Linked DNA regions of Homo sapiens. The protein of the gene in region 2 interacts with the protein of the main gene of each other region in a biochemical or structural test. Each region holds a gene or a part of one and is shown on either strand. Other genes may lie near its edges.

Region 1 (3,820 bases), on a different chromosome or scaffold from region 2:
TTTTTTTTGAGGCGGAGTCTCGCTCTGTAACTCAGCTTGAGGACAGTGGCACTATATCAGCTCCCGCAACCTCTGCCTCTGGGGCTTAAGTGATCCTCCCACCTCAGCCTCCCTAGCTGGGATTACAGGCATGCGCCACCATGCCTGGCTAATTTTTGTATTTTTAGTAGAGACGGGGTTTCACCATGTTGGCCAGGCTGGTCTCACACTCCTGACCTCAAGTGATCCGCCCGCTTCGGCCTTCCAAAGTGCTGGGATTACAGGTGTGAGCCACCCCGTCTGGCCCCAACAAGAGTTTGACTTGCTAAAACCATACTTAAGATATTAAATGCCACAAACTACCAGAGGGTTATTTTACACTAAGAGAATTATAACCTTCTAAAAAGGCCAATTTTTGATTCTCTGCTTGAAACAAATCAAATTCCATCTAATGAAAGTTAAGTCGGGCTGGATGCGGTGGCTCACCCCTGTAATCCCATCACTTTGGGAGGCCAAGGCATGCACATTGCAAGATCAAGGGATCGAGACCATCCCGGCCAACATGGTGAAACCCCGTCTCTACTAAAAACACAAAAATTGGCTAGGTGTGGTGGTGCGTGCCTGTAGTCCCAGCTACTTGGGAGGCTGAGGCAGGAGAATTGCTTGAACCTGGGAGGTGGAGGTTGCAGTGAGCTGAGATTACGCCACTGCACTCCAGCCTGGCGACAGAGCAAGACTCTGTCTTTAAAAAAAAAAAAAAAAAAAAGGAAAGTTAAGTAAGGCTGGGCGCGATGGCTCACACCTGTAATCCCAACACTTTGAGAGGCTGAGGCCGGTGGATCGCCTGAGATCAGGAGTACAAGACCAGCCTGACCAACATGGAGAAACCCCGTCTCTACTAAAAATACAAAATTAGCCAGGTGTGGTGGGTATGCCTGCAATCCCAGCTACTCGGGAGGCTGAGGCAGGAGAATTGCTTGAACCTGGGAGGTGAAGGTTGTGGTGAGCCAAGATCGCGCCTCCAGCCTGGGCAATAAGAGCAAAACTCATCTCAAAAAAAAAAAAAAATCAGTATAATTCTGGCACTCCATTTTTACAATATTCAAAATATTGATTCCTATTTTGCTCCTTCATAGTCAAGAGAAGCCACCAGAACTTAGAGTACAGATTCAAAAGCTGGGAGCTCAGTCGTCTTAGTTGCATGCAGATTCTTTTTTTTTTTGGAGACAGGGTCTGGCTCTGTCACCCAGGCTGAAGTACAGTGGCATGATCACAGCTCACTGCAACCTCCACCACCTCAGCCCCCCAAGTAGCTGGGACTACAGGTGCTTAAAGCACTTTGGCCTCTTAAAATGCTGAGATTACAGGCGTGAGCCACCACGCCCGGCCTGCATGCAGATTCTTGACTACCTCCCTTCTAACTAGAAACAGCTGCAGGAATAAAGCAATTGGTTGAATGGCCCAATGCTACACTGAGGAGGGAAATATTAGGCAGAGTTACCTGGCCACTAGATCTATTTCCAAAATCATCTCAAGGGCATAAGGTGATAAATAGAAGAAAATCTCTGTTTTATAGAACAGGCAATGATAACGAAGGTTATTTTGCCTGAAAAAACTGTGAAACTGAAAATTTGTTACCCGGTCTAAGAATTTTATTAAAAAATAACTTTTTTTACTGAATAATGATGGAATATATGACATTGCTTTATGTCTCTCTAGACTGATACCTCCATGGTTGGTTGCCCCATTTCTGTGATTTTATAGGCCCTGCTTATGCTGTTATCATGGCACCCTTCCACTGTTTCTAACGATCTTCCTATTTTAGACATCTCTGAAAGAACGCAGAGTAAACATGAGAAGTTAGTGAATTAGGGCCCTCCAAATAAAGATTGTTTAAATCCTGACAACCATTTATTTATTTATTTCATAAAACTGGCATTTACATTTTTAAAAAGCTACTGTGTAAGTTTAATAGTTTTACTTTCTATTCAAAGAATCTCTGGCTCTATCCTCTCATATAATATTTGCTGACTGGTCTCCAGAAATCATTAAAACTTTATACACAAACACACATACACAGCTGCAAATACACAAACTTATTACTGGCATTATTCATCTAGTGGGCAGAGAGCAATGACTCTGTAATTGTTCATTAAATCACCATCACCCATAACCATCCACAAAATAATAACTGTTAGGATTTTACTTACATTACCAAGACTAAGAGAAAGATTTACAAAACAACTTGTGTATATGACAAGAACTGGGACTACTAAAATCATCTGTGCGATGGAACAACCGTAGAACTGTCAAAACAGGATCAAACAGAGGTTTTGCTTGGGGGAAGAATGAAAGATCATTTTTAGTATCTTGGTAAATTTAGTTAAAATGATGCAAACTTGGCAGACTCCAAAATAATCTCTGAAAACTCTTTAAAGATTTCTCCCCCAAACAGCTCATTCACAGTACTTACAGCACTGAAGTTGGCAAAATTGCTTGGATCAGCCTCTTTATTGGTAGTGGTAGTAGCAGAAGTGAATGGATCACAAAATATTTCAGGATCTTTTTCTTTGGGGCTATCGTTGCCTGGGAAAGGCTGAAATGGATCATTCAGTTTAAAGGGATCAGGAGAATCCAATTTGTTGATGGATCTTTTCCCTGGATCAAAATCATTACAATTAATTCAACCAGTAAATACAGCAAATACAAGCACACAAGAACATGTACACAGATAGCATTAAAGTACTGTGGGTAGAGGATGATTGAGTACCTAAAACACATTCTGAATATTGTCTTAAATAGCTACACCAACAATTTGTCCTCAAATTCTTCACACATGATCTCTCAAATAGATTCCAGCTATGTGCAGCTAATGAAACAAATAGCAAAGTAAGGATGGGCCAGGAATCATATTTTTGTCCAAAGACTGAATCCCACCATCCCCTAGCCACACCCAAGCAGCATGTTCCCAAAAGGAGAGACGAATGGATTAAACAGAAGGAGAATAATAAAGAATAAAGACAGAAATGGCCTGCCTCTGCTGTTACAGCCCTCAGCCTGATAACAGTTATCCACTAGTGGCAGTAAGAGCAAATGACCTCTGAAAACTGGGAAAATTCTTCTGATTTTTCTCTAGTTCTACATACAATACCTAAGAGCATAAAATTTTTAAATTACCGTAGTAAAATGCTGCCAATTTTTTGTTATTTACTGTATTTCAAAATGAAGAAAAAATGTTTTGAAGCCCAGGGCCTAAATCTTTGCGGTTGCTGATCAAATAATCTCTGACCAAACAATAGTATTCTGTCCTATTAGTCACTCACTAATTCATTACCATTTTCAAACAAGTTCTCTAAGTCTTACTTAAACTTAGTACTTCTTGAAGAAAAGATAATAAAAATAGGGGTCAAAATATCTCCAAATATATTTTTTTCCTAAAATGCATAAGCTGGTAATAGCAATCATAACAACAGATTCCATCACTGTAGCTGCTTAGAAAAGATGCTCATATCTCAATGGATTCTTCCAATAATCCTGTGAAAGTAGGCAAAATTAGAATTACTGCCAACATTTAATAGCCAAGGGTCAGATATATGAAATTATACACTTAAGATCATAGTTAGTCAGGGAACATCCAGAAACAGAACCCAGATATTTAGACTCCCAGTTTAGTGCTCTTTCCAACAAACCAGTCTTTTCCTTAATCTTTTTACAATGATATACAATTACTTGGATGAAGATTCTTAGATTGAGCAAAAACACTAGCATATTATTTTACTTAAGATTTAAAAAAACAACCTCACTATTGGCATCATGCAAGTTGTAAAAACTTAAATGTGCA
Region 2 (3,820 bases):
AGGCTGGTCTCAAACTCCTGACCTCAGGTCATCCACCCACTTTGGCCTCCCACAGTGCAAGGATTACAAGCACGAGCCACAGCACCCAGCCCATTATTTCTACCGCTCAAAAATTGCCCAGGCAAACACAAAAGCTTCTGCTTTTGCTATATGCCTAGGTAAAGAAGCTAAAATGTTTGTTCTCTACCTTCAGTCTAATTCCATAATCAACACCAAGGGAAAGGAATTTGCTATAACAAGATGTCTTGGAATAAATAATAAATCAATAAATATAATAAGATTTTAAAAAGGAACTATCATATTTTAAATGGTAGGTTTGCATAACTAATGAAAATAAAATCTATTTCTGATATTTTCAGAAATCCAAATGGGAAAAATGCTTGTGGATACAAAGGATAAACATACCTCCCTCACTGTGTTTTTTGTGAGACAGTCTCTCACTCTGTCACCCAGGCTGGAGTCATGGTTCACTGCAGCCTCAACCTCCCAGGTTCAAGCAATCCTCCTGTCTCAGCTTCCAGAGTAGCTGGGAGTACAGGTGCAAGCCACCACGCCCAACTAATTTTTTTTTTTTTTTGAAACAGTCTCACTCTGTTTGGAGTGCAGGCTGGAGTGCAGTGGCACAATCTTGGCTCACTGCAACCTCTGGCTCCCTCATTCAAGCGATTCTCCCGTCTTAGCCCCCAGAGTAGCTAGACTATAGGCACGCGCTGCCACATCCAGTTAATTTTTTGTATTTTTAGCAGAGATAGGTTTCACCATGTCGGCCAGGCTGGTCTCAAACTCCTGACCCCAAGTGATCCGCCCACCTCAGCCTACCAAAGTGCTGGAATTATAGGCATGAGCCACTGTGCCCAGCCCCAACTAATTTTTAAAATTTTTCTTTTGTAGAGACTAAGTTGACCAGGCTGGTTTCAAACTCCTGGACTCAAGCAATCCTCCTGCCTCGGCTTCCCAAAGTGGTGGGATTACAGGTGTGAGTCACTGCACCCGGCCTACCTCCTTTTTGTTTTTTTTTTTCCTTTCCTGAGAGTCTTGCTCTGTCACCCAGGTTGGAGTGCAATGGCATGATCTCAGCTCACTGCAACCTCCGCCTCCCAGGTTCACGCCATTCTCCTGCCTCAGCCTCCCAAATAGCTGGGATTATAGGGCGTGCCACCACGCCCAGCTAATGTTTGTAATTTGTTTTTCTTTTTTTTGAGACAGAGTTTCACTCTTATTGCCCAAGCTGGAGTGCAATGGCACCATCTCAGCTCACTGCAACCTCTACCTCCCGGGTTCAAGTAATTCTCCTGCTTCAGCCTCCTAAGTAGCTGGGACTACAGGTGCTTGCCACACCCAGCTAATTTTTGTATTTGTAGTAGAGACGGGGTTTCACCATGTTGGCCAGGGTGGTCTCCATCTTTTGACCTCGAGATACTCCCGCCTCGGCCTCCCAAAGTGCTGGGATTACAGGTGTGAACCACTGCACCCGGCACCTCCTTCATTCTTATAAGAGGTTTAGAAAAGTTCTGAAATAAGGTAACCACCCAAGTTAAAAAAAAAAAAAAAAAAAAGATTTTTATGTTGGTTTGCCAAAGGGACTGAATGCCTGAAATCAGTGAGTGTTCGAAGTTAAACTATACACCCAAAGATGTAGTAAAAGGAATATGATAGTCACTAAAATTATTGGGTTTTTTTCCCATTACACAAAACCTAAGAGAATTATCAATGTAACTTCCTTATGTTTCTATTTCCATTATATTTTAACTATGATTAGCCAGTGTAACCTTCAAACTTCTTCAAGCTTTCTTGATTCTGTAACTAGTTAACAAAGCCCAAATATGACTATGTATTTTTGTTTTCAAAGTATCCAAAATATACTCACTTGATTCCATTTGTTTTTCAGTTTTACAAAATCTGTTTAATACTCCAAGTCAATATTTGGCCTAAATTATCTCTTACATTATGATATTTGAAGAAATGACTGACAACCCCACAAACCACAACAGGAGTGCAGTTCCTAATTTCCTAACCTACTCACTAAAGTTTAATGTTTTTGATAAATAGTCCTTACCACTCTGGCTGCTCTCTCCTGAGATTCACATTTCCTGCAAAACCACGGTCCAGTGGGTACTTGAACAATGCCATAGCAAGCTGTTGAAAAATGAAATGTGTTAAAATGTTAAGATTCGAAGAACTATGGAAAAATCAAATACCCTTTCAAAGCCCTATTAATCCACCTGTCACTATTCAAGTAAACTACCTCTTTACAGAGAAGTAAAACAGTTCACATCCTATTTATCACATATACAGCTTACTTAATTAACAAGTAAAAATTTTAAATGCAACTCTTTTGTGTTACCTCATCTAAATAAATCAAGGCTGGGTGCAATGGTTCATGCCTGTAATCCCAGCATTTTGGGAGGTCGAGTTGGGAGGGCTGCTGGAGCCCAGGAGTTCCAGAACAGTCTAGGCAATACAGTGAGACTCCATCTCCACAAAAAAAAAAAATTTTTTTTAATTAGGCCAGGCGCAGTGGCTCACACCTATAATCCCAGCACTTTGGGAGGCTGAGACAGGCGGATCACCTGAGGTTGGGAGTTCAAGACCAGCCTGACCAACATGAAGAAACCCTGTCCCTACTAAAAATACAAAATTAGCCAGGCGTGGTGGCACATGCCTGTAATCCTACTACTCAGGAGGCTGCGGCAGGAGAATCGCTTGAACCTGGGAGGCAGAGGTTGCAGTGAGGTAAGATCGCACCATTGCACTCCAGCCTGGGCAATAAGAGTGAAACTCCGTCTCAAATTTAAAAAAAAAAAAAAAAAAAAATTAGCTGGGCACGGTGGCATGTGCCTACAGTCCCAGCTACTCAGGAGGCTGACTTGAGCCTGGGAAGTCAAGGCTGCAGTGAGCCATAATCACACCACTGTGCTCCAGCCTGGGCAACAGAGGGAGACCCTATCTCAAAAAAAAAAAGGTATGTTTATTTCTAAATACATAATGATGTGAATGCTCCAAATGATTTAATTATACATCACATATCTAATCACAGTCTTGTTTTAAAATTGGTTTTTAAAGTTAATAATTAGCTCAAAACTGAAAATTTTCTAAAACTCTAAAAACACTAATAACCAAGTAGACTTCTGCATGAGCTTGCTAGGCAGAAATATGAAAATATCTTAAATATTGGAAAGCATTTAAAGAATATAAATTCAGGTCGGACGCGGTGGCTCATGCCTGTAATCCCAGCACTTTGGCAGGCCGAGGCAGGAGGATCACCTGAGGTCAGGAGTTCCAGACCAGCCTGGCCAAGATGGTGAAACCCCATCTCTACTAAAAATTTTTTTAAAAATTAGCTGGGCATGGTGGCAGGTGCCTGTAACCCCAGCTACTTGGGAGGCTGAGGCAGGAGAATCACTTGAACTTGGGTGGCGAAGGTTTCACTGAGCCGAGATCACGCCACTGCACTCCAGCCTGGACAAGAAGAGCAAAACTCCATCTCAAAAAAGAAAAAAAGAAATTAGCCAGGTGTGGTGGTAGTGCCTGTAGTCCCAGCTACTCAGGAGGCTGAGGCAGGAGAATCACATGAACCCGGGAGGTAGAGGCTGCAGTGAGCCGAGATTGCCCCACTGCATTCCAGCCTGGGCGACAGAGGGAGTCTCCGCCTCAAAAAAATATATAAAGAAAGAAAGAATATAAATTCACAAAACAGAGTACTACCCACTGTACAATCACAGCAGAATATAAATTCAGTATAACTTTTTAAAACTCCAAAAGCTAAACTTCCACTTCCAGTTAAACATTTGTAGGACCAGGCAAGGCAGCTCATGCCTGT

Evidence for each region.
Region 1: the proteins of MLLT10 (region 2) and EPS15 interact in a test that uses a peptide from one of them, tested with the Homo sapiens proteins (one large-scale study listed by BioGRID and IntAct).

The regions. Positions count from the first base shown.
Region 1 is NC_000001.11:51,358,719-51,362,538, forward strand, and holds part of EPS15 (epidermal growth factor receptor substrate 15), read right to left. Parts: intron 2,638-3,820; coding exon 2,453-2,637; intron 1-2,452. UniProt on the Homo sapiens protein: Involved in cell growth regulation. May be involved in the regulation of mitogenic signals and control of cell proliferation. Involved in the internalization of ligand-inducible receptors of the receptor tyrosine kinase (RTK) type, in particular EGFR.
Region 2 is NC_000010.11:21,537,149-21,540,968, reverse strand, and holds part of MLLT10 (protein AF-10), read right to left. Parts: intron 2,137-3,820; coding exon 2,057-2,136; intron 1-2,056. UniProt on the Homo sapiens protein: Probably involved in transcriptional regulation. In vitro or as fusion protein with KMT2A/MLL1 has transactivation activity. Binds to cruciform DNA.